5 separate regions of the Homo sapiens genome follow, and regions 2, 3, 4 and 5 are each linked to region 1. Evidence: fine-mapped expression QTL. A gene starts in region 1. Each other region holds a variant in brackets. All regions are shown on one strand. Distances are between the middles of the regions.

Region 1 (5,944 bases):
GATTCGGAGGGTGCAATCCCAACGCTGCCTGGGCAAGAGTGGGATCAGGGAGGGTAGGGAGAAGCCCCAGGGCAGCTCGAGTGGGCCAGGGCAACTGAGAACCTGTCCCATTGGACTTCACTTAAAAAACACAAATTCAAAGATAAAATTAAGAATTTCAAGCATGGGATACTTCTGAGTGCCTGGCCCTTTCCACCAGAGTGATCAAAGCCTGCATTGACTGTCCACCCATGAAGCTAGTCCTGCTATCACATAGGGTTGTTGTGAGGAATGAATGAATACTTGTACAGGTTTAAGACTAATGCCTGGCACCTTTGAAGGACAATATAAGTGTTGGCTATTGTTTCTATCACTTCCATAGATGGAACACAGGTATTTTTCAAATATGCATTTGTTCAGCAAACACTTATTATTCTGTGCCAGGTACTGACACATTTCATTTTATCTTTTTAATTTTTTCCTTGATTCTGCATTAAAGGAAAGAAATTCTAGCAGGGAAGAACTTTTATTATTTGCTTACTCCTGCCACGAAATATCTAAGAGGCCTCCAGGAGACGCCATGCCTTGACTTTCAGTACTGACTGTCAATGAGTATGCAACTCAGCATCCACTGATGTGTGGAAAAGTCTCGGGAAAAGGTGTCAAGCTAGAGGGCAGTAGATTCCCGGCCTGCCCAGGCTCTCATCATCCTCTAATGCTATTTTCCACTGCCAGGATCTCAAAACGAGTCAGCCTTTCAACTTTACTCAGTAATTATTCTTGACCACTGAAAATCTCACAATTCACTACCTGGGGTCAGTGCATCTACAGCAAAGGTACCAGTGGATGGGGAGGAATCAGGAAGCCTCGAGTGTGTGCTATGATGCTCCTTGGAAGGCACCACAACCTTTCCTCAGCTCTGTCCCAGCATTTTCTATGAAGTTGGCAATGTTCTATTATGTGCTATCTCATACAGTAGCCACTGGCCACACACAGGCTACTGAGCATTTAAAATGTGGCCGCTGTAATCGAGGAACAAGTTTTTTTTTTTTTTTTTTTTTTTGAGACAGAGTCTCGCTCTGTCACCCAGGCTGGAGTGCAGTGGCGCGATCTCGGCTCACTGCAACCTCTGCCTCCCAGGTTCAAGCGATTCTCCTGCCTCAGCCTCCTGAGTAGCTGGGACTACAGGTGCATGCCAACACACCCAGCTAATTTTTTGTATTTTTAGTAGAGACGGGGTTTCACCATGTTGGCCAGGATGGTCTCGATCTCTTGACCTCGTGATCCACCCGCTTCGGCCTCCCAAAGTGCTGGGATTACAGGCGTGAGCCACCGCTCCCGGCCGAGGAACTCAATTTTTAATTCAATTTAAAAGTACTGAATTTCAATTGATTCAGTTAGAAATTGAGGAATCCGGCCGGGCGCGGTGGCTCAAGCCTGTAGTCCCAGTACTTTACGAGGCCGAGGCAGGTGTATCACAAGGTCAGGAGTTCAAGACCAGCCTGGCCAAGATGGTGAAACCCCGTTTCTACTAAAAATATGGGAGGGGGGTGGGGGCGGGGAACTTAGCCGAGCGTGGTGGTGGGCACCTGTAATCCCAGCTACTCGGGAGGCTGAGGCGGGAGGGAGGATCGCTTGAACCCGGGAGGCAGAGGGTGCAGTGAGCCGAGATCGCACCACTGCACTCCAGCCTGGGCGACAGAGCAAGACCCGGTCTCAAAAAAATAAAAATAAATAAAAACAAAAACACACACACAAAAACATATGCGTGCTGTTGTATTGGATAGCACAGCTCTGGATGTCTGGCGTTAGAGGGCTAAGTTACTTAACTCTTACTATCACTGATATGCTGGCACTCTGTTCATTACAAGGGCTGAAAAGGTCTTTAAGAGATCATCGGGTGACTTTAAAATCCCCATCTCACAGGCAGAGGTGAGCGGAGGCGCCGCTGGTCCGCTGCGCGCAGGGCCCACGCCCTCCCAACACCCGCCGGCGCTCCACTCCCGCACTGAACGGCTGAAAAGCAGAACAGTGCTGGCTCCGTTTCGTGTGTGGAGTTACTACAGAGTTCCGAAGCCCGGACGCGCACACGTCCTTCACCTAGTTAGTGGGAGAGCATAGAGGCGCGGGTGCGGGAGCGCGCTCAGGCACGCGGGGCTGCGGGGGGCGGTCTCGGCTGGGCCGCCGGAGTAAAGACCCAGGCGCAGCCAGGCGCCGCCCGCCCGCCAACAGCTCGCGTAACCTCCCGGAACGGCCAGTGCCCTCCCAGCCCGGCCCCCACCGCGCCCGCGCCGGCGGCCAGCGGGGACACGCGAGTCCGCCGCGGGACAGACCCGGCCCGAGCCTACCTGCGCGCGCCGTGCCGTCCCCGCTGTCCCCGCCGCCCAGCCCCGCGGCCGCGCGCAGCGCGCTCCCGCAGCTCGCCGACAGGTTCCCGGTGGCCCTGCGTGCCAGGGTCAGGATGGGCGCCGACCAGCCCTCGGCCGCCCGCGGCCTCGTTGCGCTCCGCAGGTCGCCTGGGCCGGGCAGCTGGCTTCGGTCCACGATCTCAAACTCTTCTCCCGGCTCAAGCGCTGACCCGGGCCCCGGCCCCGGCTCCAGCTCCGGCTCCAGCTCCCGCCCCCGCCCAGCAGCGCAGCCGCCTTCCCGGTCGGCCATCTTGGCCGTGTCATGTGACCCAGCGGGCGGGCGGGCGCGGGGTGGGGGCGGGCGGGCATCGCCTTTGCCTTAGGTGGGGGAGATTTTTCTCCCTCTTCACCGCCTCGCCTTCCCTCTGTTTCGAAAGGTTCGGGAAAGTCCAAGTCATAACATAAAAAGTGTGCGTATTCCCGGCCGCCGGCAGGACCTGTTCGCGGGGAAGTTCCTCTTGAACTTTCTCCGAGGACAGTTGTGCACCCTGCCCGGCGCTTCACGGGGTTCCCTGGCCGTCGTTGTCTTTGTGACACCATTTCCTCTTTTAAATTTTCATTTCATGGTCTATATTTTCCACTTCGTCATTTTTCTGTAGCACTCATTAGAACAAGCCCCGAAAGGGCGACTAAGGAAACGCACAGGCGAGGCAGGAAAGCAGGAATTTTTTTTTTTTTTTAATCTAATGACTATGACGGCTTGGCAAGAAAGAGTGCACGATAGTGGACTGGAAATCAGAGGTGGCTTCTCCTATTGATTAGTTAAGTGGGATAACAAAAACCGACCTCATTATTAAATAAGATTTGCAGTAAGGACCACATGGCAGATGTTAGCGATTGTGACTACTATCTCTGGTATCCAACTGTGTGGCCTGGGTAAGTCACTATACACTCAGTCTGTTTCTTCACTTGGAAAAGAAAGGAATTTGAGTAAGTACAAAGGAAAATTTTGGCCGGGCGCGGTGGCTCACGCCTGTAATCCCAGCACTTCGGAAGGCCCAGGCGGGCCTTTAGTAGGACGAAACCCCGTCTCTACTAAAATACCAAAACAACAACAACAACAACAACAAAAAACCAGCCAGATGTCGTGGCGGGACAGCTCTACTCCTAGCTCCTTGGGGGGCTGAGAGTGGGAGGATCGCTTGAGCCCGGGAGGTCGATCCCACAGTGAGCGGAGATCATGGCCACTGCACTCCAGGCTGGGCGACAAAGTGAGACCCTGTCTCAGAAAAAACACTAAAATTTACTAGCACTTAACACTTTGCAAAGTGAGGCAACATGAGCCACACCAAACCAGCAGAGCTGTTTTGATTCCCAGAATGTTTACAAATCTTAAAACTTGTTGCCAATATTTAGAAATCAAAAGATTTCACATAAGAATCTGGATTTTAGCTTTCTCTGGAATCACTGGAATATTTGGTAACTCATGGCATATTCCCAGATGGCAACAAACTGTTGGGAATAAACTGTGCTGCCCCTTTAGACGCCCAGCTGCTCCCTGGACCTGTCTTGGTCCAGCCCACTTCACTAGGTTGCATGATATGTCTGGTCCCTGAAAGGCCAGTTCTCAGTGAAGGGATACCACTTCATCTAGGAGTGTTTTGGGAATTTGTGGAGTTGGTGTTTGAGTTGTGTAATGACTGAGGGCATACTACCAGTCTTTTTTGTTTGTTTGTTTTCGTACGGAGTCTCGCTCAGTCGCCCAGGCTGGAGTGCAGTGGCGCGATCTCGGTTCACTGCAAGCTCCACCTCCCGGGTTCACGCCATTCTCCTGCCTCAGCCTCCCGAGTAGCTGGGACTACAGGTGCCCGCCACCACGCCCGGCTAATTTTTTTTTTTTTTTGTATTTTTAGTAGAAACGGGGTTTCACCGTGTTAGCCAGGATGGTCTTGATCTCCTGACCTCGTGATCCGCCAGCCTCGGCCTCCCAAAGTGCTGGGATTAGAGGCGTGAGCCACCACGCCCGGCCTGGTCTTGTTTGTTTGTTTGTTTTTGAGGCCAAGTCCTGCTCTGTCACCAAGCTGGAGTGCAGTGGCGCAATCTCGGCTCACTGTAACCTCTGCCTACCGGGTTCAAGCGATTTTCCTGCCTCAGCCTCCCAAGTAGCTGGGACTGCAGGGGCGTGGCGCCACACTTGGCTAATTTTTGTACTTTTAGTAGAGACGGGGTTTCACCATGTTCGCCAGGATAGTCTCGATCTCTCGACCTCGTGATTCCCCCGCCTCGGCCTCTCAAAGTGTTGAGATTACAGGCGTGAGCCACTGAGCCCGGCCCTACTAGTCTTTACTGGATGCATAGACAGGGATGAAGATAGTCTAGAATAACAGCATTGTCCCGAATCCTTCATGACTTTCCAATGCTACTGGACATTTATGTAGGTGAAAAGTTTGTTTATAATGATCAGGGCGTGGAACCGAATTCCATTTTGTATAAAAACATTAACTCTTTTTTGGGGGAACAGTTTCAACATTTATCAGGCAAGGTTATTCTTCAGTAACAACCCCCAAATCTCAATGGCTTAACCTAAAAGCTGGTTTCTCATCATGCTACATGTCAATGTAGATGGGGTGAGTACTCTGCCCAACTCATTGTAGTCTCTCAGGACCCAGCCTGTTGGGAGTTTTGCATAAATATTACATGCTCCAGTCCTGCATGACAAAGGTCACTTATGCACATTTCATTGGTGAAAGCAAATCACATGGCCACGTTTAATTTCTAGGGAGTTGGGAAGTTCAGACCTATTTCTGTCTGGGAAAACCACAACTGGGAATCTTTGTGAGCAGTGTAATGACTACCATAAGTGTACCCTAAATTTTCCTGGAACGTAGCTAAATTGATTTGTTCAGAATTACACGTGCAAATGTCTATGTTATTTCAGTGGTAGTTGTGCCTCGTTTACATATTGAAATATATCTCATTTTATAGTGCTTCGCTTTATTGCTTTTTTAACAAATTAAAGTTTTTGGCAGCCGGGCACGGTGGCTCACGCCTGTAATCCCAGCACTCTGGGAGGCACAGGTGGGTGGATCACCTGAGATCAGGAGTTCGTGACCAGCGTGGCCGACATGGCGAAACCCCGTCTCTACTAAAAACACAAAAATTAGCCAGGCGTGGTGGTGGGAGCCTATAATCCCAGCTACTCTGGAGGCTGAGGCAGGAGAATCGCTTGAACCTGGGAGGCAGAGGTTGCAGTGAGCCGAGATCGAACCACTGCACTCCAGCCTGGGCGACAAGTGCAAAAAAAACTGCGTCTCAAAAAAAGAAAAAGTTGCTGTTGGCAACCCAACAGCACGTGCTTATTTTGTGCCTCTGTTTCACATTTTCGTAATTCTCAAAATATTCTAAACTTTTAAACTACCCTTACATCTGTTATATGATTTGTGATCTGTGATCTTTGGTGTTACTATTATTAATTGTTTTGGGGCACCACAAACTGCACCCATATAAGATGGTAAACTTAATTGATAAATGTTGTATGTGTTCTTACTGCTCCACCAACCACGTGTTTCCTTCTCCCTTACCCTCTCCTCGGGCCTCCCTGTGCCCTGAGACACAAT
Region 2 (5,944 bases), 81 kb before region 1:
GCTGGCCAAAGCCTGCCCAGACGGCTCACCTGTGCGGGATGGAACAAAAGGTGAGCCCAGGGGGCCTGATAAAATGACCTCAGTAGCCGCCTGTGGGAGGGGACCCTGAGGAAAGCACCATAGTGACTACCAAGCCTGGATGGTTTTACTGCTTACTTTGTTATTTTATTTTATTTTATTTTATTTTATTTATTTTAGAGACGGAGTCTCGCTCTATCACCCAGGCTGGAGTGTGGAGTGCAGTGGCCCGAACTCGGCTCACTGCAACCTCTGCCTCCCCGGTTCAAACAATTCTGCCTCAGTCTCCCGAGTAGCTGGGAATACAGGTGCACTCTGCGACGCCTGGCTAATTTTTGTGTTTTAGTAGGGACAGGGTTTCACCGTGTTGCCCAGGCTGGTCTCAAACTACTGAGCTTAGGCAATCTGCCCACCTCGGCCTCCCAAAGTGCTAATATTGCAGGCATGAGCCACTGCGCCTGGCTTTTTATTTTATTTTTTGGACAGGCAGGGCACGGTGGCTCACGCCCGTAATCCCAGCACTTTGGGAGGCCAAGGCAGGTGGATCACGAGGTCAGGAGATGGATACCATCCCGGCTGACACGGTGAAACCCCGTCTCTACTAAAAATACAAAAAAAAAAAAAAAAAAAAAAAATTAGCCGGGTGTGGGGCGGGTGCCTGTAGTCCCAGCTACTCGGGAGGCTGAGGCAGGAGAATGGCGTGAACCCGGGAGGCGGAGCTTGCAGTGAGCCGAGATTGTGCCACTGCACTCCAGCCTGGGCGATAAAGTGAGACTGTCTCAAACAAACAAACAAACAAACAAACAGGCCGGGCGTGGTGGCTCACACCTGTAATCCCAACACTTCGGGAGGCTGAGGCGGCGGATTACCTGATCTCTGGAGTTCAACACCAGCATGACCAACATGGTGAAACCCCATCTCTACTGAAAATACAAAAATTAACTGGGCATGGTGGCTCACGCCTGTAATCCCAGCACTTTGGGAGGCTGAGGCAGGTGGATCACGAGGTCAAGAGATTGAGATCATCTTGATCAACATGGTGAAACCCCGTCTCTACTAAAAATACAAAAAATTAGCTGGGCGTGGTGGTGGGCGCCTGTATTCCCAGCTAGTGGGGAGAATGAGGCTGGAGAATCGCTTGAATACAGGAGCTGGATGTTGCAGTGAGCCGAGATCGCGCCACTGCACTCCAGCCTGGCGACAGAGCAGGACTCCGTCTCAAAAAAAAAAAAAAAAAAAAAAAAATTCGCCGGGCTTGGTGGGGCTGTAATCCCACCTACTCGGGAAGCTGAGCCTGGGCAACAAGAGCGAGACTCCGTCTCAAAAAAAAAAAAAAAAAAAAAGATATTTGATTTGGCTTTAGACAGTGAGTGACCTGGCTGAAGCCTTGGGAGGTTCGCACCCGGAAAGTTCAAAACCGGCCGCCTGCGTTGTCCGCCTGGAGGAGGCGCGCAGCGTGAACCGGAGAGGGCGTGCTCGGTCCCTCCTCAGGTGGCCGTCGGGCAGACCCTTCTCCTCAGCGGACGGCTGGACACTGTGGGGACGCCTTTGTTTCCGCCGCTCATGGTGTCTGAATCCACAATTCGTTTACGTGGTTGTGGAGCCGGACTCGGCGTCGGAAGGACGGTCTCCTTCAACACAACAGTGGGGCTCCAGCGAAGGCGGAGAGACGCGGGGATCCCAGCCGCAAGGGCGGACCGTGCTGCCTGGCCGCGGCGGGGGAGGGGGTGCTACCCCATACCCGGGCTCTAACCGAGACGCCCTTTTCTTTTTTCTTTTTTTTTTTTTTGAGACGGAGTCTCGCTCTGTCACTCAGGCTGGAGTGCGGTGGCGGGATCTTGGCTCACTGCAAGCTCCGCCTCCCGGGTTCACGCCATTCTCCTGCCTCAGCCTCCCAAGTAGCTGGGACTACAGGCACCCGCCACCACGCCCGGATAATTTTTTTTGTATTTTTAGTAGAGACGGGGTTTCACCGTGTTAGCCGGGATGGTCTCGATCTCCTGACCTCGTGATCCGCCCGCCTCGGCCTCCCAAAGTGCTGGGATTACAGGCGTGAGCCGCCGCGCCCGGCCGAGACGCCCTTTTCTTAAGTCTCCGCAGCTTGCAGTGTACCACCCGAGCAGGTCCCGGAGGCGGCCGATGCTGTTTATCACTCAGAAATTTAAAGTTTGTTTGTTTTGAGAGAGGGTCTCCCCACTTTGCCTAGGTTGGAGTTAAGGGGCGCGATCTCAGCTCACTGCATCCTCCACCTCCTGGGCTCAAGCGATCCTCCCACCTCAACCTCCTGAGTAGCTGGAACTACAGGCATGTGCCACCAGGCCTGGCTAATATTTAAAAAAAAAATTTTTTTTTTTGAGGTCTTGCTCTTGTTGCCCAGGCTGGAGTACAGTGGCGCGAACTCAGCTCATCGCAACGTCCAATTCTTGGGTTCAAACAATTCTCCTGCCTCAGCCCCCTGAGTAGCTGGGATTACAGGCCTACGCCACTGCACCTGGCTAATTTTTTGTATTTTTAATAGAGGCGGGGTTTCACCATGTTGGCCAGGCTGGTCTTGAACTCCCGACCTCAGGTAATTTGCCTGCCTCGGCCTCCCAAAGTGCTAGGATTACAGGTGTGAGCCACCGCGCCCAGCATGTTTTTAACTTTTTGTAGAGATGGGGCCTCAATATGTTGCCCAGGCTGGTCTTGAACTCCTGACCTCAGGTGATGTGCCTGCCTTGGCCTCCCAAAGTACTGAGATTATAGGCATGAGCCACCACACGGAACCTAGATCATTTTTTCTCAACTTTTTTTTTCATGATCGCCATCTTAAAGATCCTTTCTAGATCTTTTTTCCTAGTTTCCCACCACATGATATTTTAATAACATAGATATACCGTAACGTATATCTTTTCATGTCCTGTGGCCCTTTGGAAGGCAACAAACCATTATGTTACCTAAGATTTATTTCCTTCCCCCTCACAGCCTCCCCATCCCACTACCCCCATGCATTCATACCAGAATTTATTCCATACTTCATTAGAC[A/T]TTAAATTGTTTTCTAAAGCTTCCCTATTTCATGCTGCCATGAACAATCTTGTAATTAAATCAGTGCAAAAGTAGGAATGGAATGTATGCTTTAATGAAATGTATGTTTTTTGATTTTTGTTTTTGTTTTTTTTTTGAGCTGTTTTTGTTTCTTTTTTGAGATTTTTTTTTTTTTGAGATGTCGCCCAGGCTGGAGTGCAGTGGCACGATCTCGGCTCACTGCAAGCTCTGCCTCCCGGGTTCACGCCATTCTCCTGCCTCAGCCTCCTGAGTAGCTGGGACTACAGGCGCCCGTCACCACACCCAGCTGATTTTTTGTACTTTTAGTAGAGACGGGGTTTCACCATGTTGACCAGGATGATCTCAATCTCTTGACCTTGTGATCCGCCCACCTCGGCCCTCCAAAGTGCTGGGATTACAGGCGTGAGCCCCCGCGTCAGGCCGAAATGTATGCATTTATACTGCAAATAGCCCTGAGCGAGAGGGTGTACCAATTTACACTCCAAGCACAATGTACCTTGATGGCATCTCCCTGCATCCTTTCCAGCTCTCTTAATTACTCTTTTAAATGATCATTAATTTGAAAATTAGTTGCAAAGGCTTTGCGTTATTTTATTTAATTTGCATTTCTTTGGTTACCACTCAAAGGGACACTTCTCAAGCCTATGGATCATCTGCATATTTTCTTTTCTTTTTCTTTTTCTTTTATTTATTTATTTTTTTGAGACAGAATTTCACTGTTGTTGCCCAGGCTGGAGTGCAATGGCAAGATTTCAGCTCACCACGACCGCCGCCTCCCACATTCAAGCGATTCTCCTGCCTCAGCCTCCCAAGTAGCTGGGATTACAGGCATCTGCCAGCACGCCTGACTAATTTTTGTATTTTTAGTAGAGACAGGGTTTCTCTATGTTGGTCAGGCTGGTCTTGAACTCCCGACCTCAGGTAATCCACCCACCTTGGCCTCCCAAAGTGCTGGGATTACAGGCATGAGCCCGGTCATCTGCATATTTTCTTTTGCAAATCTCAGGGTTCTGTTTTTTTGTTTTATTTTGAGACAGAGTCGTTCTGTCACCGAGGCTCGAGTGTAGTGGCGTGATCTAGTCTCACTGCAACCTCCGCCTCCCAGGTTCAAGTGATTCTCCTGCCTCAGCCTCCAAGTAGCTGAGATTACAGGCAAGTGCCACCATGCCTGGCTAATTTTTGTATTTTTTTAGTAGAGACGGGGTTTCACCATGTTGGCCAGGCTGGTCTCCAACTCTTGATGTCAAGTGATCCACCTGCCTTGGCCTCCCAAAGTGCTGGGATTACAGGCGTAAGCCACTGCACCCAGTCTACTTCATATTATTAAGAAATCCATGAAAATATAATTATAATGGCTATAACATGTCTTCACATAAAATAATTGGAGTATAACAGTTTCCATCAAATCTAAAATATCATCAATTTTAAGTCCCACCATTATTTTCTGTACTACTACGAACAAATTCTGGCCTGGCATGGTGGCTCATGCCTGTAATCCCAGCACTTTGGGAGGCCGAGGCAGTCAGATCACTTGAGTTCAGGAGTTCCAGACCGGCCTGGCCAACCTATCTCTACTAAAAATACAAAAATTAGCCTGGCATGGTGGCATGTGCCTATAGTCCCAGCTACTTGTTGGGAGGCTGAGGCAGGAGGATCACCTGAGCCTGGGTGGGGGAGGTTGCAGTGAGCCAAGATCATGCCACTGCACTCCAGCCTGGGCGACATATCATCATTATTATTACTTTTTTTTTTTTTGAGACGGAGTCTCGCTCTGTCACCCAGGCTGGAGTGCAATGGCGCGATCTCGGCTCACTGCAAGCTCCGCCTCCCGGGTTCGAGCCATTCTCCTGCCTCAGCCTCCCGTGTAGCTGGGACTACAGGCGCCCGCCACCACGCCCGGCTAATTTTTTGTATTTTTAGTAGAGACGGGGTTTCACTGTGTTATCCAGGATGGTCTCGATCTGCTGACCTTGTGATCTGCCCACCTCGGCCTCCCAAAGTGCTGGGATTACAGGCGTGAGCCGCCGCGCCCAGCCGGGTTATTTATGATTGCATTTATTTTCTTTTCTTTGAGGCACAGTCTCGCTCTGTCACCTAGGCTGGAGTGCAGTGGTGTGATCTTGGCTCACTGCAACCTCTGTCTCTGGGGTTCAAGCCATCCTCCCACCTCACACTCCTGTGTAGCTGGGATTACAGACGTATGCCACCACACCCGGTTAATTTATCTTTTTTCCTACACTTGATCTTTGCCAAAAGGATGAGATGTGATAATGTAGTAGAGACGGGGTTTCACCGTGTTGGCCAGGTTAGTCTGGAACTCTTGACTTCAAGTGATCAGCCCACCATGGCCTCCCAGAGAGCTAGGAGTACAGGGTGAGCCACCATGCCCAGCTGATATCATTGGTTTTAAAACACATTCCTGGCCAGGTGCGGTGGCTCATGCGTGTAATCCCAGCAATTTGGGAGGCTGAGGTGGGTGGATCACCTGAGGTCAACATGGCAAAACCCGGTCTCTACTAAAAACACAAAAATTAGCTGGGTGTGGTGGCAGGCACCTGTAAACCCAGCTACTCTGGAGGCTGAGGTAGGAGAATCGCTTGAATCTGGGAGGTGGAGGTTGCAGTAAGCCGAGATCATGCCATTGCATTCCAGCCTGGGTGACAGAGCAAGACTCCATCTAAAATAAATAAATAAATACAAATTTTTAAAAAAGCAGAAGAAAATAAATAAAACACATTCCTATCTTATTGAGGCTAAGCTGTACAAAATGTGTCTTACAAATGATACTAAAGATAACAAATATGTGCTCAATCTCTGGATGGGAAAGGGCTTTCTAAACTTAAAGACAAACCTCAAAGGAACATATCCATGGCTTTGACAT
Region 3 (5,944 bases), 100 kb before region 1:
GACCGCAGGTCTCTGAGTCTGTTTCTTGGAGATTTGGGATAGCTGGGAGGCCCCATGAGAGCGAGACGGTGAAGCTACCAGCAATGGGGTCTGGTTCTGATGTAGCCATTGACCCCAGCTTGCACAGCTGAGCTTGCACATTCCTCCTCTCCTCCCCAGCCCCTGCCCCCGCTCCCAGCTGTGGCTGCCCCATGTCCTCTCCAGACCACCCCGCACAGCTGTGGCTGCCCCATGTCCTCTCCAGACCACCCCGCACAGCTGTGGCTGCCCTCCCAGCCTCCCTCTCACACCGCTCTGTGTGACTTTGTCCTGTGCTTGCTCCTGACACATGGACTTCGCTTTATCTTTCTTTTTTTTTTTTTAATTTTAATTAAAAAAAAAATTTTTTTTTTTGAGACAGAGTTTCTCTTTTGTTGCCCAGGCTGGAGTGCAATGGCGCACTTTCGGCTCACAGCAACCTCTTCCTCCTGGGTTCAAGCGATTCTCCTGCCTCAGCCTCCCGAGTAGCTGGGATTACAGGCATGTACCACATGCCCGGCTAATTTTGTATTTTTAGTAGAGACAGGGGTTCTCCATGTTGATCAGGCTGGTCTCGAACTCCTGACCTCAGGTGAACCGCCCACCTCAGCCTCCCAAACTGCTGGGATTGCAGGCATGAGCCACCGCGCCCGGCCTCAATTTATCTTTTATACTTGCCCAGGGCCAAAGGGAAGTCTTACATTAGTCAAACTCACCAGATTCAGTAAAAACTCAACCCTAAAATAATTATTTGAGACCGTGCAGTGGCTCACGCCTATAAGCCCAACAATTTGGAAGGCTCAGAGGTAGGCTTACTTGAGCCCAGGACCTCAAGACCAGCCCAGGGGGCCAGGCGCCGTGGCTCACGCCTGTAATCCCAGCACTCTGGGAGGCCCAGGTGGGTGGATCATGTGGTCAAGAGATCGAGACCATCCTGGCCGACATGGGGAAACCCCGTCTTTACTAAAAATACAAAAATTAGTGTGATGGCGCCCGCCTATAGTCCCAGCTACTTGGGAGGCTGAGGCAGGAGAATTGCCTGAACCCGGGAGGTGGAGGTTGCAGTGAGCCGAAATCGTGCCACTGACTCCAGCCTGGCGACAGAGTGAAACTCTTGTCAAAAAAAGAAGAAGAAGAAAAAAAAAGAAACCCAGAAAACAAAACGAGTCTTCGTCTCTACAAAAAATTAAAAAATACTTAAAAAATAATTACTTGGGTGTGGTGGCACCTGCCTGTGGTCCCAGCCAGCTGGGAAGTTGAGATGGGAGGATAGCTTGGGCCCAGGAGTTGGAGGCTCCAGTGAACTGTGATTGTGCCACTGGACTCCAGCCTGCGTGACACAGCAAGATTCCACTTCTAAAAAATAATTATAATCTGTCAAATTTCGGGACAGATAATCTTGGCCTCCCAGCCCAAGATTTGATTTGATTTCATTTTATTTTAGAGACGGAGTCTCGCTTTGTCGCCCAGGCTGGAGTACAATGGCACAGTCTCAGCTTACTGTAAACTCCACCTCACGCGTTCAAGCTATTCTTCTGCCTCAGCCTCTTGAGTAGCTGGGATTACAGGCGCGTGCCACCATACTCAGCTAATTTTTGTATTTTTAATAGAGATGGGGTTTCACCATGTTGGTCAGGCTGGTCTCGAACTCTTGACCTCGTGATCCGCCCACCTAGGCCTCCCAAAGTGCTGGGATTACAGGGGTGAACCATCCCGCCTGGCCAAGTTTTTATTTTAACAACTACTGTGTGTGAGAGAAGGGGGTGGGCTAGAGTAGGGTAATATGTACACGCTATGGCTGAAACAGAAAAATGGTAACTTTATTTTCTACTTCCCAGCATGCCCTGCTCTGAGCCCTCATTCCTAGTGAAGGTGGAAACAGAGCAAACTTGCTCTTGTATGGATTTAATTTAGTCTTTTTTTGTAATTACTCAGCCTTTCAGGTTGCTTTCTTCTCCGCTGCTCATTCTGTAGCAGACACTGGGTTGCCTACATAATCCCTTTTCCCCATTCTTTGCCAAGACCTCTGACTTTCTTTGGGATCCACCCTTGGAGAAGGTGCCTCTTGTCCTGGTTCAGGGACATATCCTGACGTGTCTAAGCCAATCACTGTAATGCCATTTCTCTCACCTCGGTTGGCTGGGGTGTGCATGAGACCAATTTCTGACCATGAAAACTCATGGATGTCTGCCATGGGGTCCATTCTTGAAAAGAAACACAAGTGGCCGGGCGCAGTGGCTCACGCCTGTAATCCCAGCACTTTGGGAGGCCGAGGCAGGCGCATCACGAGTTCAGGAGATCGAGACCATCCTGGCTAACACGGTGAAACCCCGTCTCTACTAAAAATCCAAAAAAAAATTAGCCAGGCGTGGTGGCGGG[C/T]GTCTGTAGTCCCAGCTACTCGAGAGGCTGAGTTGGGAGAATGGCGTCAACCCGGGAGGCGGAGCTTGCAGTGAGCACAGATCCTGCCACTGCACTCCAGCCTGGGGAACACACGGAGCAAGACTCCATCTCAAAAGACAAAAAAAAAAAAAGGAAAAAAGAAAAAAAAAAGTAAGGAGCCACCCACAGAATGAGGGAAAATATTTGCCAACAACTAATGGAACAACTCAATTCAAAAATGCATGAAGGGGGCCTGGTGCAGTGACGCATGCCTGTAATCCCAGCACTTTGGGAGTCTGAGGTGGGTGGATCACGAGGTCAGGAGTTTGGGACTAGCCTGACCAACATTGTGAAACTCCGTCTTTACTAAAAATGCAGAAATTAGCTGGGCATGGTGGAGTGCGCCTGTAATCCCAGCTACTCAGGAGGCTGAGGCAGGAGAATCGCTTGAACCCGGGAGGCAGAAGTTGCAGTGAGCCGAGATCGCGCCATTGCACTGCAGCCTGCGTGACAGAGGGAGACTCCGTCTAAAATGAATGAATAAATAAATAAACGAACAAAAAAGCATGAAGGGGCCGGACCCGGTGGCTGAGACAGGTGGATCACTTGAGGCCAATAGTTCAAGACCAGCCTGGGCAACACAGCAAACCCCATCTCTACAGAAAATACAAAAATTCGTCAGGCATGGTGGTGTGTGTCTGTGGTCCCAGCTACTGGGGAGGTTGAGGCAGAAGGACTGCTTGAGCCTGAGAGGCAAAAAAAAAAAAAAAAAAAAAAAAAAAAATAGCTGGTGGTTCATGCCTGTAATCCCAGCACTTTGGGAGGCCAAGGCCAGCAGATCACTTGAGGCCAGGAGTTCGGGACCAGCCTAGGCAGTGGTGGCGAGCGCCTGTAATCCCAGTTACCCGGGAACCTGAGGCAGGAGAATCACTTGAACCTGGGAGGTGGAGGTTGCAGTGAGCCAAGATCGCGCCACTGTACTCCAGCTTGGGCAATAAAGTGAGACTGTCTCAGACAAACAAACAAACAAATGAAAAGGCTGGGCGGGGTGGCTCAACGCCTGTTATCCCAACACTTTGAGAGGCCGAGGCGGGCGGATCACGAGGTCAGGAGATCGAGACCATCCTGGCTAACATGATGAAACCCCATCACTACTAAAAAAAAAAAAAAATTAGCAGGACGTGGTGGCGGGCGCCTATAGTCCCAGCTACTCGGGAGGCTGAGGCAGGAGAATGGCGTGAACCCAGGAGGCGGAGCTTGCAGTGAGCCGAGATCACACCACTGCACTCCAGCCTGGGCAACAGAGTGAGACTCCGCCGTCTCAAAAAAAACAAAAAAAAAAAACAAAAACACCAGGTGTGGTGGCTCACACCTGTAAACCCAGCACTTTGGGAGGCGGATGCAGGCAGATCACGAGGTCAAGAGATTGAGACTATCCTGGTCAACATGGTGAAACCTTGTCTCTACTAAAAATACAAAAATTAGTCGGGCGTGGTGGCACACACCTGTAGTCCCAGTTACTTGGGAGACTGAGGCAGAAGAATCACTTGAACCCGGGAGGCGGAGGTTGCAGTGAGTCGAGATCGCGCCACTGCACTCCAGTTTGGGTGACAGAGCAAGAGCCCATCTCAAAAAAAAAGAATCCTTCTAAGTAGTTTATCAGCTTAAGCCATGTTGGCTGAACATTAAGACTGTCAAATCCTAAGGAACAAAATAATATTAAAATTAGGAAGAATTATTTTGCCATAGGATAAAATAGAAATACTGCCATACATTTGACTCATTTGTTTGAAAATCTTTATATGGTTGTTGCTTCATTTAAAAACCAGACCTCACAAACCTGACCCAAGTTATGTGCAAAATAATGTGCCAGTTGCACAGCCCCTGGAGGCCAGTGTGAGCCCACATGCCTCTGCTGGTTTATTTCTAGAGTCCACTCGCTGTGGGTCTTGATCATGTTTCCAAAATAGGGAAGTCACCCATCTCTATTTCAGGCCTTGTTGCCAATGAAATTTTAAACTATGACATTGATACCATTTGACTAGACAATAACTAAAATTGAACAAAGAAGATATTTTCCTCTCATTGGAGGTTGCAGCATTTTATTCAGGTTTACAATTTGTGATTCATCCAGCCGTGGTGGCTCAAGCCTATAATCCCAGCACTTTGAGAGGCTGAGGTGGGCAGATATCTCAAGGTCAGGAGTTCAAGACAAGCCTGGCCAACATGGTGACACCTTCTCTCGACTAAAATTACAAAAATTAGCTGGGTGCGGTGGCACAAGCCTGTAATCCCAGTTACTCGGGAGGCTGAGGCAGGAGAATGGCTTGAATCCGGGAGGCGGAGGTTGTGGTGAGCCAAGATGGTGCCACTGCACTCCAGCCTGAGCAACAGAGTGAGACTCCATCTAAAAAAAAAAAAAAAAATTGTGATTGTGTAAACTGTGACTCAGGGAACTGCAGAGAACAGAAGTTTGCAGGTCTACACGTGGAATCTGCAGTTCTGTTAGGAGAGACTGGCATTGCAAAAGAGCAGCAATTCCTGAGCATCTTCCCCAGCAGAGAGCCCATTCTGGGGGCAATGTTGACAATGACCCAGAGTCTCTGGGTTCTCCAGTGGGGTGCACAGCTGATGTTATCCCTCCTGTGCTGGCAGTTTTCTAAGTGAGTTCAGATCCTCTAGGAAGGAAGATCTGTGTGTGCAGCGCTGTGGAAGAGGTCTCTGTGGGCGCCAAGCCTCCCAAGGAGATTTACGGGCTCCAGGGACTGGAGGTTTGGACCCCATCTCCTTCTCTCCCAATCCATTAGAACACGCATTTCCAGCATCTGTGGGGTGCCCAGATGAGGGGACGCGCCTCCAAGTTGTCCTCAGGAGATTCCCAATTGTTCGTGGATGTCGGATATTCGGTGTCCATGGGAGTGTCTGGGATTTTGGTGTCTTGTGCGTCCAGCAGCGTTGGCACATCCAGGCTGAGGAAAGCGGGACCCCTGCCTCCGCCTGCCTGCATGTGGGGTCTCCCTAGAAAGAAGCCTTTGGTAGGTGGGTGGGAAGATTAGGGTGCTTGAATGGGTACTGTGAGGAGGTGCAGTGGCACCAGGCTCTAGCAGCCTCCTGCCTCCAGGAGAGGCCCAGGTTGGGATCACTGCAGCGACCAACGCCTCGGATCACTCGAGGGCTAGAAGGCACCCACCAGGTGTGTGGACAGGAGCGCTCAGGGGCCTTGCACATTGGGCATATTATGGCGTCAGTTTCGGAATCAGCCTGCATGGAGTCGGACCAGGACACCCAGCCAGGATTCCGTCGTCGGGGAAGGGAACGCCCACATGGCTTGTGTGAAGGACATTCCAGGGGACGCAAAGGCTCTGGTGGCTGAGAGGAGCTGAGGGATGACAGATACCCCAAGGATTCTGTGGAGCTGGTCAGGTTTGGTGATAGGGTGCTCGCAGGTGGCCGGTGTGAAGGGTGCTTCAGGGGACACAGAGGCTCTGATGCCTGGGAGGAGCTCAGGGATGATGGAGACCCAAGGGACTCTATGGAGGTCTTCGGG
Region 4 (5,944 bases), 23 kb before region 1:
ACTAAAAACACAAAAATTAGCCAGGCATGGTGGCAGGTGCCTGTAATCCCAGCTAATCGGGAAGCTGAGGCAGGAGAATCGCTTGAACCTGGGAGGCGGAAGTTGCAGTGAGCTGAGATCGTGCCATTGCACTCCAACCTGGGCAACAGAGCGAGACTTCATCTCAAAATAAAATAAAATAAGATAAAAATAAAGTGGTGACCTTAACTGACATTTCTGAGTCCTTCTTCCCCCAAATCTTGGTAAAATGGTCTAATCAATATTTCAGGAAAATTCTCTATCCCTTAGGTACAAGGGAGAACCAAGACCCCTTACACATCTAAACATCAACGGCTTTGCCAAGAAATAAAGCACTTGAGAATGAATAAGTGAGGTCATTCTTATCTGAAATACAGGAAAACTGGGTGTACCCTAAATGTTCATCAATAGAGAAAAGTTGAAATCAATCATGTTACAGCCATATCACAGAACCTATGCAACTATAACAAAGAACGCAGTAGATACATTTGCAGAAATATAGAAAAGCTGGGCACGGTGGCTCATGCCTGTAATCTCAGCACTTTGGGAGTCTCAGGAGGGTGGATGGCTTGGGCTCAGGAGTTCAAGACCAGCCTGGGCAACACAGTGAGACCCTGTGTCCACAAAAATACAAACATTAGCTGGGTGCAGTGGTACATGCCTGTAGTCCCAGCTACTTGGGAGGCTGAGGTGAGAGGATTGCTTGAGCCCAGGAGGTTAAGGCTGCAGTGAGCTGAGATCATGCCACTGCACTCCAGCCTGGGTGACAGAGTCAGACACTGCCAAAACAAAACAAAAAAAACAACAAAACTCCAGGATACAATTTCAAGTCAAAGAATCATATGTACAATCTCATTATAGTAACCCTACTTATGTTGCAACCAAGGCTATGTGTAACGGTTCTAACACATGTCTGCAACCTCTCTGACACACCTACCAAAAGGAATCCATCCATATTTCCAACCTTCAACTCTGGGGGGTCTTAGTGCCTGTCTCGATGAGTAAAATGCAGTAGAAATGATGCCGTGTGACTTCTGCAGCTAGGTTAAAAAGGGCAATACAGCTTCCACCCAGCTCTTTCTCTTGAGGCATATGCGTTTGAAGTTCTGAGCTTTCATGTAAAAAGTCTTGACTTCCCTGAAGCCACAATGCTGGAGACCATGTAAACATGGAGATGTCCAAGAAACCCCTGCCATTCCAGCCCCCAGTTCCTTGGTCTTCTCAGCACAGCAGACAGACGAGGAGAGAGCAAGTCTTCAGGTGATTTCAGCCCCAGCCATCACCTGACTGTAAGCACGTGCGCTCTTGAACAAGAACCGACTAGCTGAACCCAGTTAGCCCCCAGCTGTGAAAGATACAGTGATTGTTATTGTTTAAGTGCTGTTGCTGACTTGTTACACAGTAATAGAAGACCAGAAAATATTTAATTTAAAACAAAACCTACGTGAACATAAATGTATAGAAAAAGTAGAAAAGCTTCTAGAAAAATTTTCCCCAGAATCTTTACCATCACCTGTGGGAAAGGGAGGAGGACTGCGGCTGGGGCGGGGGGTGGGGTGAGAAGAGGAGGTTCAACTTCTCTTTTCACATTATATACTTTGGTATTGCCTAACTTTTTTCAACAAGCAAGCATTTCTTTTATAATAAAAAACCAAATCATAAAAAAATACAGCCAGGAAAAAGCAACAGAAAGATGAGAAAGAATTAATACCCAAAGCAAAAATCAATGGATTAGAAAGCAAATAAAGCCCTACTCCCAAAGTAGAATTGATAAATAAGACAGCTGGTTTGTCAAAGTTCAACCAAGTAGACAAATTTCTACTAAGTGTGATCAATATTTAGCAAATACACATTATAAATGAGAACAGTGAGATTTTTCAAAAGCTGTAAGAGAATACTTTCATACAACTCTAGCTTAGTAGAGCTGAATGAAATGGTTTCTAAAAAAATTATAAATGACTTTAAAAATTGTCTTAAGACTTAGGAAACCAATAAATTGATCAAAACTATGCTAAAAGTTAAAGTGGTCAAAGAACAAAGACCAAAAAAGGCATAAGGGTGAAGTGGTCATACCAGTAAGTTCTAGCAAGCCTGCACAGAAAAAATAATTCCTGATCTAATAAGCTGCGGTAGAAAACAAGAAAAGGAAGGCTATTTTCCAGTTTATTTTATTTTTATGTTTATTTTTTTTGAGACGGAGTTTTGCTCTGTTGCCCAGAGTGGAGTGCAGTGGCACGGTCTCAGCTCACTGCAGCCTCTGCCTCCCAGGTTCCAGCGATTCTCCTGCCTCAGCCTCCTGGGTAACCGGGATTACAGGCACACGCCACCACGCCCAGCTAATTGTTGTATTTTTGGTAGAGACCAGGTTTCACCATGTTGGTCAGGGCGGTCTCAACCTCCTGACCTCATGATCTGTCCACTTCGGCCTCCCAAAGTGCTGGGAGTGTGAGCCACCACGCCCGGCCTTCCAGTTTATGAGGCTAATACAATTCTGACACGGAAAGGTGGCAAAGGCAGTATAGAAAATTCAGAATAGTTTCACTTACAAGCAGAGACACAAAAATTCCAAACAGTAAACATATCAAATCCAGGGTTTACAATGATCAGGTAGGGATTATTTTAGAAATTCAGGGATAGTATTCAATAAGAAACCTATGAATTAGTTCAATTATATTTATGGGTTAAAAGCAGGTTGACATGTTGATAGATCCAAAAAAAGTATCTGACAACATTCAACATTCATCTCTTAAAAAATCACAAAGTAGGCCGGGCACGGTGGCTCACGCCTGTAATCCCAGCACTTTGGGAGGCCAAAGTGGGCAGATCACGATGTCAGGAGTTCAAGACCAGCCTGGCCAACATAGTGAAACCCCATCTCTACTAAAAATACAAAAAATTAGCCGGGCATGGTGGCAGGCACCTGCAATCCCAACTACTCAGGAGGCTGAGGCAGGAGAATCACTTGAACCCAGGAGGCGGAGGTTGCAGTGAGTGGAGATTATGCCACTGCACTTCAACCTGGGCGACAGAGTAAGACTCCATCTCAAAAAAAAGAAAAAAACAAAACGACAACAACAACAAAACACAAGGTAAACTGGAGTGGAAAGCACTCTCTAAACGTGAGAAACCGCATCCCTCAGACATCAGCAGCAAACATGTATACTTTATGTATACTATTATGTATATGATTATGTATACTATAGTGTGTTTGAAGAACACACTATAGGCACTGCCATTCAAGATAGCACTAGACCAGATTGCTCACTCATGTCTATTAATTAATTAAAATCTCAATGGAGTTTTTATTCTGGAATTTGACAAAACGATGTTCAAGTTCATCTGGCAGAATGGATGGC[C/T]CAGAAATATTTGAAACAGAAGTACAGCAGAGTAGGCAGGCGCTTAACTACCAGAGTCTAGAATATACTATCTGGCTCCAGTCATTAAAAGAATGTGTCACTGGCATAGGAACACAGATTCAGATTTACAACAGAAGAGTCCAGAAATAAACCAATGCATATTATGGATATTTCACATATGATAAAAGTGGAATTTCAAATTAGTAGAAAAAATATATTACATGATGATATTGCAAAAACTGGTTAACTATTTGTAAAAGAAATTTAGATTCCTACTTCACACTATGCCAAAACAAATGGCAAAAATGTGTAAAATTTACACATTTTTTACACATAAAGTGTGTAAAAAATTACCCAGGTAGAAGCAGAAGGTCTTGGCCTGGCCCTCCAGGGTCCCAGACTGTGGAGATTGGAGGGGCAGGTCTGGCCTTTCCTGGGTTAGCACAGGGTACCCAGTAGGGGCACAAGCTCACTATCCATCGGCCAGCCTAGTTGTGTTTGAAGAAGTATTCCTTGTCATCCACATTGGGCTTCATTGTCGCTACCAGGCTTCCAGCCAGTGGGACAAACTTTCCCGTGCTCATCTGCGTACTGGAATGCCTGGACCAGCTGCAGAGCCTCATCCATGGAGCACCCCAGAGGCAAATCATTAACAGTGATCTGGCAAAAGTCACCCTTGCCATCGATGATAAAGAGGCAGGGTAGGCAATGCCCTCATTGGTTTTCAGCACACAGTAATCTTCAGACAAGCTTCCCGTCACATCAGCGGGTGGGGGATGCTCGGGGGCCTAAGCCTCCCTACTTCTGGGGGTTGTTGATCCAAGCCAGGTGGGTGAACTAAGTCCACCCAGACACCCAGCACTTCGCAGCCCAGCTTGCGGAAATCCTCGGCATGGTCGCTGAATGCGACGTTCTCCATGGGCCACAGAAAAGTGAAGTCCAGAGGGTAGAAAAAGAGGACGACGTACTTCCCTTTGTAGCCCACAGCTTCACCTCCTGGAAGGCGCCATCCACCAGGGCAATGGCCTTGAAGTCAGGGGCTGGCTTTCCGAGCTGCGACTGACTGGAAGCCATGACTGAAAGCTGTGGCGGTAAAGGCTGGACAGACTGACAACCAGACGCGTGGACTCAGGTTCCAGCTCCCCACATTTGATATTAAAAGTTAGGGTAATGTTTAGATAGGGAAGGACCTTCAAAGCACAATACCTTAGAAGGTATAAAGGAAACATCTGCTAAATCTGGTTGCCAAAAACTAAAAATAAAAAACTTACAGGGCAAACCACCACTGAGAAACCAGAAAAAAAATTTATAACAAATAATTCTGAAAAAGGGTCAATGTGCTTAGTCTTTAATAAAGAAGTAGAGAAAGAAAACTCAAAAATGGACAAAGAATATGAAAAGATAATCACAAATGCTGAACCACCAATGGCAAATAAAACAGGAAAATACTTGTAAATTTGAGATAATGAGTTGTTTTGTCCATGAGGCTGAAAAAGACTGAGAATGCTCATCACATCCAGTGTCAGGAGGAAATGTGTTCTCTCCCACACTGCTGGTGGGTGTATATAATGAAGACCTTTCTGGAGGTCCGTTTTATGTTATCTAGCAAAATGTAGCCTGTATACTTTGACACAACAACCCCAAATTTATCCTAAGGAAATACACGGACAAGAGTACAGAGAACTTCAAGGATGTCTATAATATTGGTGTTTTTTTTTTTTTTTTCCAGACAGAGTCTGGCTCTGTTGCCCAGACTGGAGTGCAATGCAGTGGCATGATTAGAGCTCACTGCAGCCTTGATCTCCCAGGCTCAAGCAATCCTCCCACCTCAGCCTCCAGAGTAGCTGGGATGACAGACAGCATGCCACCATGCTCGGCTAATTTTTTTAAATTTTTGGTAGAGACAAGGTCTCACTATTTTGCCCGGGCTGGTCTCAAATTCCTGGGCTCCAGTGATCCTCCTACCTTGGCCTCCCAAAGTGTTGGAATTACAGGCGTGAGCCATGTGCCCAGCAATAGTATTGTCACAATATGGAAACAATCTAAATTAATAAGGTACTGGTTACATAATTGTACGTTAAAAAATGAAATACTACATAGTCATTTTAAATGGTTTATATCTCTCGTTATTGAGAACTGTGTGGAACATATTGTTAAATTTTTTAAAATTACAAAATGGTGTGCTTAAAATAATCATAGTTTGGTTTCATAAAAAAAGAAACCCTTCGAACATCTCACTCTAAAATACACAAACATATACACACACACATGCATGCACACACCTTTATTCATCTGCTAGAAGGGTGTATACCAGAATGTAACACTGAATTATCGGTCTAAGAGTAATGAGAATATGTGTGATGTTTAGTGTCTTTTCAAAAATACTTCTCTGAATTCAAAAAAAGATATTTTTCAACATGCAAAGACAATCGAACTTTTTTTTTTTTTAAAGGGAGGAGAGGTTATAAAAAAACACTGACCTGCACATGGAGGGATCAGGGAATCTTTAGATTCACCAAACACAATGCAGGAAAAAGGCTGGGAATTTTGCTAGGTAGTGTAAAATAATC
Region 5 (5,944 bases), 64 kb before region 1:
AAACCAAAACGTTTATATCTGTATAAGTCAATTATAAGTTAAGTTAATCTATTTATTTAATAAGTTTAGCATAAGAAACTTAGGCAAAGCAGTTTCTTGATATTTGAGTTTTGTATCTGGCTTACTTAAATCCTTGTGAGTTATGAAGTTCCTTAGGATAGATAATTCAAATTAGGTTTAAGTAGTCTTGGGGGAGGGGACTACGGAGTGAAACTACTTAAATTTTCTAAGTATAAAGTTTAAATCAATAGCAAAACAGGATTAAGATAAATGTGGGCATAATTAGGTGTATTGACATGCCTTTGATGTATCAAACTGAGGGGGAACCCACTAAATCCAGTCAAGCAGTTTCATAAGATCTTCACAAAATGCCTCTACTTACGGAATCATGTTGATTTTAGTCCTGCTGATGTGTGTACCGTTAGCACTTTGGTTTATCAATATTTGACTGGCTCAAATGATGGATAGAAGGGTGGCCTGGTTATAGACAGTAGGCAGAAGGAGGCAGAGGGTTACAGTAATGTAAGATCAAGACTGGAAAATGATAGCTATAGAATTACAAGCCCGGTACCACCAGGTACCACATCACATAAGAAAAAAGGTTCTAATGTTTTCTTAACTTAACAGCAAACCAGTCCAGCTACGGGGGCCCAGCCAGCCAGCAGCTGAGTGGGGGTTACGGAGGCGGCTACGGTGGCCAGAGCAGCATGAGTGGATACGGTAAAGCCTGTTTGTTACTGTACTTAGAGTAAGTTATGGTAAAGCCTGTTCATTACTGTACTTAGAGTAAGTTATGGTAAAGCCTGTTACTGTACTTAGAGTAAGTCGCAGGCAGGTGCCTTTAGTTGGGAAGATGCAGGCTCCTTTCGGTGAAATTGGGTTATGAAATGTATGCTTTCAATCCAAATGTAACTGTTTTTACTAGCTAATTTTCAGAAACAATCATTGGGAGGGGGAAGTGTTCTTTGAATTAAGAACTAGTCATTGCAGCTTTGGAATACTGTCGAGCCAGAAAATATCTGCCTCCATGTATTAAAACATTAAATAAAGTTGTTCACTTTTTTGTCTTTTGGTTAGCATTAAGTCAGTTTTAGACAGAGGGAGAATTTGAAATAGTAGAATGGTGGTTGGGTTCAGGATCGTATTTATTAGTCAGTTAACCTAGGATTGGTTTTATTTATTTTTTTTCAATTGGTCTAAAGAATGGTGATTTTGGTATTATAGTCTTACCCTACAAAATCCTTTTGCAGACCAAGTTTTACAGGAAAACTCCAGTGATTTTCAATCAAACATTGCATAGGTAAATATTTTCTCAAAAAATATAAATTCCCAATAGCAAATACTGATATGTTGTAATAATGCTTTCTATAGCAGTCAATGGCTCTGACTTAACTCCATGGAGGCTGCCATTTGGGCACAGTGAGTTGCCTTTAGTCCAGCTTGGTTGTCTCACTTCCTGCCCACCATGAATAGGAAAAGCAAGAGACTTCCCCTGTGCTCCCTTTTCTCAAATGCCATTCGAGGGACACATTGTGAATGTTTATGTTAAATTTTTTTTAAAAATGCCTTGTTTAGCTTTAAAAATACGAAGTAATTTTGCAATTTTTGAAAAACACTAGTTTTCCTTTAAACTTAATTTTTCATGTTGATCCTGAAGAATCCGTTAAAATGGTAGCACAAGAGTCTGGCAAGTTGGTACTGCAGAGAAAAGGGGTTAATTGAGGCTTGTTTGGAGTCGGGATTCCCCTTTCCCAAACATGCGTCTCGCCACTTGGACAGCAGCCATTTGTACTCGTATACTTTTTAAACTTTTTCTTGGAATACTATATTTTATTTGACTGGTAGTCTGATATTACTCCTAACTTGTCAAATTGATCTCTTTGCAGGTAACCAAGGAGCAGTGAACAGCAGCTACTACAGTAGTGGAAGCCGTGCATCTATGGGCGTGAACGGAATGGGAGGGTTGTCTAGCATGTCCAGTATGAGTGGTGGATGGGGAATGTAATTGATCGATCCTGATCACTGACTCTTGGTCAACCTTTTTTTTTTTTTTTTTTTTTTCTTTAAGAAAACTTCAGTTTAACAGTTTCTGCAATACAAGCTTGTGATTTATGCTTACTCTAAGTGGAAATCAGGATTGTTATGAAGACTTAAGGCCCAGTATTTTTGAATACAATACTCATCTAGGATGTAACAGTGAAGCTGAGTAAACTATAACTGTTAAACTTAAGTTCCAGCTTTTCTCAAGTTAGTTATAGGATGTACTTAAGCAGTAAGCGTATTTAGGTAAAAGCAGTTGAATTATGTTAAATGTTGCCCTTTGCCACGTTAAATTGAACACTGTTTTGGATGCATGTTGAAAGACATGCTTTTATTTTTTTGTAAAACAATATAGGAGCTGTGTCTACTATTAAAAGTGAAACATTTTGGCATGTTTGTTAATTCTAGTTTCATTTAATAACCTGTAAGGCACGTAAGTTTAAGCTTTTTTTTTTTTTAAGTTAATGGGAAAAATTTGAGACGCAATACCAATACTTAGGATTTTGGTCTTGGTGTTTGTATGAAATTCTGAGGCCTTGATTTAAATCTTTCATTGTATTGTGATTTCCTTTTAGGTATATTGCGCTAAGTGAAACTTGTCAAATAAATCCTCCTTTTAAAAACTGCACTCTGTCTTGTCTGTGCTTCAGTGTCATGTGGACTGAGTCTTGGTGCTCTGTGCCCACCTGGGGCCTAGGGCCACATCTCTGGCTTGGCAGTTGAGGCTGTTGCGTAGATGTCTTCAGTCTTCCCTCCAGTGCAACTGAAGGTAAACTCGTCTTTGGGGCCCTGGTGGAAGGGCTGTATGTCATTTGGCTGCACAGGACCTGATCTGAACTGCCTGTAACTCATTAAGCACTTGCACAAAACAAAGGGGGAGGCGCCAGTGCCCTCACTGCATGCCTGCATGTCTTTGAGGCCTTCATGCTTGGCTGGGAAGGTGCCGGAGGCAAGGGAGGTGTGATGAATATGTGGGTTTCTTCTAGCTCATAAGCTCATAGGTTTGTTTTTTTTTTTGAGGCAGAGTTATATTCTGTTGTCTCAGGCTGGATTGCAGTGGCGTGATCTCAGCTCACCTGCAACCTCCACCTTGTGGGCTTCTGCCTCAGCCTCCCAAGTAGTTGGGGTTACAGGCGCCCACCACCACTCCAGGCTAATTTTTTTTGTATGTTTAGTAGACACGGGGTTTCACGATGTTGGCCAGGCTGGTCTCCAACTCCTGACCTCATGAGATCTGCCCACCTCGGCCTCTGAAAGTGCTGGGATTATAGGCTGGAGCCATTGCCCAGCCTTCACAGATGGTTTTCAAATGGAAGTTTTGAACTTCTGTATTTTTGGGTCATTCCTAAAAATCAATTCCACTTGGAAGCAAAATTCCATGTAAGTCTCCTAAGGTAGAACGATAGGTAGAGATTGAGAGCTAACATGAGAAGTTTAAATGAACTCTTAAATATATCACGTTTTGGTAGTTCGAAG[C/T]TCCAACATGATGATAGCAAGTATTCAAGCTGCTTCCAAGTGGTGTACCTGAGCGAGTTAGAAACGCCACACTTGGAGACGAGTTCAGGAGTCCTTTATTAGCCGGCGACCGAGAGACGGCTACCGCATGAAAGTATCTCGGCCTCGAAGAAGGAGCTAGATTTTCTTTTATACTTTGGTTTGGAGAGGGGAGGGGGATTCTAGCTGCAGCCATCTTAGGGAAGAAAAACAGACAAAAAAGTTAAAGACAAATGGTTACAGGAAAACAGTTCCAGGTGCAGGAGCTTCAAATTCATCACAAAGTGACAGGTGAGGGGGCTCTGGGTGTTATCTACCGGACAAACATGGGGGCTTGATGGTACCATCTCTGAGTAAATTGCTGGGAACTGGACATCGCTTGCCTCAGCACCTTATCAGTTAACTGCACTCTTTGATACGTTGAGAGCTTGCACAAGTTAAAGTCCTTGAGGAAAGGGGGGTGGGTAAGGAGCCCTTGATGTCTTGTAAATGAAGGAGCCAAATGGAGTTGGCCTGGTTTTCTCAGCGAAGGGAGTCTTCATATTAAAAACAAGGTTAGGCATGTAAGGGAGAGTCTATTCGTGTTAATACAAGGTTGGGTATCACAAAAGCAGTCCTGAAAAGCACGCTCCCGGGGTTCCTTCAGCAGATGCTCAGGGGTGCTGCAGTGTGGGAACTGCCGCTACTACTTTCATCCCATTAGATTCAAGTCCCTGATAATGAAATTAGAATGTAGTGTCTGAACTAGGCTGTCACATAGGCTTGTGCCTTTTTTTTTTTTTTTTTTTTGAGACGGAGTCTCGCTCTATCGCCCAGGCTGGAGTGCAGTGGCGGGATCTCGGCTCACTGCAAGCTCCGCCTACCGGGTTCACGCCATTCTCCTTCCTCAGCCTCCCAAGTAGCTGGGACTACAGGCGCCCGCCACTACGCCCGGCTAATTTTTTTTTGTATTTTTAGTAGAGACGGGGTTTCACCGTTTTAGCCGGGATGGTCTCGATCTCCTGACCTCGTGATCCGCCCGCCTCGGCCTCCCAAAGTGCTGGGATTACAGGCGTGAGCCACCGCGCCCGGCCGCCCTTTAAAGCGAAGTGTGGATAAGCTTTCTCTTTTCTGCGATTACACGAGCTTTTCTTGAGTTTGTTGTTGGGGTAGAGCTAGGTAGGGTGGACAGAGTGGCTTAGTATCGGTCATTTCTAACCATCTGCCCACAGGAGCAGTGCATGCAGGAGACATGGAGGGGAGGGCTTTGCAGATCTACCTTGCTTGCCCCTACCAGGACTGGACACTAGCAGAGGGAAGGGTCTGGAATGTGTATTGTTGGTTTTGTCTTTGGCAGGTCTAGAGAACAGCAGTTGTCGGGGGAGGCAGTGTTGAGAGTTGTTGAGCTGTGTTCTAAGCTTGGTTACTGCCCTTGAGATCTTGCGTTAATAGTTTGGTACTGAGGCCCAGTATTGAGAAAGATTGAAGGTCCCTTCTCTGGGTTCTTTAGTTAACTGTGGTACATTTAAGGATAAAGCTTGCCCTGTTAGAGAAGGGAGTAGAACTAGAAACTTGGAGTAAGGTTAAACTAAATCCAGAGCCATACGGCTAGTCTAGGGCAGGGGCGGTGGCTAACGCCTGTGATTTCAACACTTTGGGAGGCTGAGGTGGGTGGATCACCTGAGGTCAGGAGTTCGAGACCAGCCTGGCCAACATGGTGAAACCCTGTCTCTGCTAAAAAATACAAAAATTAGCTGGGCATGGTGGTGCACGCTTATAATACCAGTTACTGAGGCAGAGGTTGCAGTGAGCCAAGATCGTGCCATTGCACTCTAGTCTGGGTAACGAGCGAAATTCCTGTCTCAAAAAAAAGTCTAGAAGCATTATGGTTCTTTGGAATCTTATGCTCCATAGCTTGTTTGCAGTAACTTAACCTCCTGACCTTGTCAGTTGGAATCTGCATTTTAAACAAAATCCTGACCACTCACCCCTACCTCAGTTGACTTGGGAAGTGCTGCCTTAAAATATCTATCTTTCATTTCTCAGGCCTGGGTAAAGGTGGTATGGTAGCAGACCAGGGACTGGAGATTCCAGAGTTAGGGCTTGGAATATATTTCAGTTTCTGAGTAGGGAAGTTATCTTGACCAAATATTGCCAACTTTGAAAATTTCACTTAAACACTTGTGTTTATACCCAAGTGTCAGGCACAGAGGTGGGAACCTCCTGCATGTTTTTATACTGAGCTGTCAGAACAGACTTGAAGTAGGGGAGGGATAGATTATTCTGCTTTTGTGTGTGCAGATGAGAGCTAAGACTCAAGTGAACTGACTTGCCTAAGGCTGCCCAGCAAGTTAGGGGTCCAAACTGGGTGTATTGAAAAGGCACAGATGTCATATATGCCAGTTAGGGGTAGTGAGTGATAGGCAGTTTT

What was found. PIP is the estimated chance that this variant, and not a neighbour inherited with it, causes the effect. A credible set is the group of variants that fine-mapping cannot tell apart.
Region 2: its variant is the best candidate, but not a certain one, in a credible set for the expression of RUFY1 in T cells (TOPMed, PIP 0.72).
Region 3: its variant is the best candidate, but not a certain one, in a credible set for the expression of RUFY1 in stomach (GTEx, PIP 0.65).
Region 4: its variant is the best candidate, but not a certain one, in a credible set for the expression of RUFY1 in fibroblasts (GTEx, PIP 0.82).
Region 5: its variant is the best candidate, but not a certain one, in a credible set for the expression of RUFY1 in whole blood (TOPMed, PIP 0.86).

What each region holds. Positions count from the first base shown.
Region 1 is chr5:179,547,263-179,553,206 of GRCh38, reverse strand. RUFY1 (RUN and FYVE domain containing 1) reads right to left here and starts at 2,653. Exons shown (of 18, transcript NM_025158.5): 1 at 2,328-2,653. The coding sequence starts at 2,637. All of the region lies in intron 4 of LOC128966623 (a long non-coding RNA gene), which reads right to left. LOC105377762 (a long non-coding RNA gene) reads left to right here and starts at 2,703. Exons shown (of 4, transcript XR_941315.4): 1 at 2,703-3,263. RefSeq lists a silencer at 2,019-2,728.
Region 2 is chr5:179,628,171-179,634,114 of GRCh38, reverse strand. All of the region lies in intron 4 of LOC128966623 (a long non-coding RNA gene), which reads right to left. It also overlaps a transcript of HNRNPH1 not described here. Among named protein-coding and RNA genes, the nearest start is that of HNRNPH1, 7.5 kb to the right of the region's middle. RefSeq lists an enhancer at 1,111-1,611. The variant A/T (reference allele first, on the strand shown) is at 3,043.
Region 3 is chr5:179,651,765-179,657,708 of GRCh38, reverse strand. It overlaps LOC128966623 (a long non-coding RNA gene), which reads right to left. Exons shown (of 5, transcript NR_185480.1): 5 at 4,468-5,720. It overlaps LOC100502572 (chromosome 5 open reading frame 60-like), which reads right to left. Exons shown (of 4, transcript NR_171894.1): 2 at 5,795-5,944; 3 at 5,252-5,415; 4 at 4,476-4,804. Among named protein-coding and RNA genes, the nearest start is that of SPATA31J1, 9.7 kb to the right of the region's middle. The variant C/T (reference allele first, on the strand shown) is at 2,398.
Region 4 is chr5:179,570,660-179,576,603 of GRCh38, reverse strand. All of the region lies in intron 5 of RUFY1 (RUN and FYVE domain containing 1), which reads right to left. The region is part of intron 4 of LOC128966623 (a long non-coding RNA gene); the gene reads right to left. It also overlaps the pseudogene PRDX2P3. Among named protein-coding and RNA genes, the nearest start is that of RUFY1, 23 kb to the right of the region's middle. RefSeq lists enhancers at 1-231, 4,225-4,725. The variant C/T (reference allele first, on the strand shown) is at 3,375.
Region 5 is chr5:179,610,902-179,616,845 of GRCh38, reverse strand. HNRNPH1 (heterogeneous nuclear ribonucleoprotein H1) reads left to right here. Exons shown (of 14, transcript NM_001257293.2): 12 at 628-720; 13 at 1,251-1,300; 14 at 1,887-2,668. The coding sequence ends at 1,300. The region is part of intron 4 of LOC128966623 (a long non-coding RNA gene); the gene reads right to left. Among named protein-coding and RNA genes, the nearest start is that of HNRNPH1, 9.8 kb to the left of the region's middle. RefSeq lists an enhancer at 2,959-3,018. The variant C/T (reference allele first, on the strand shown) is at 3,517.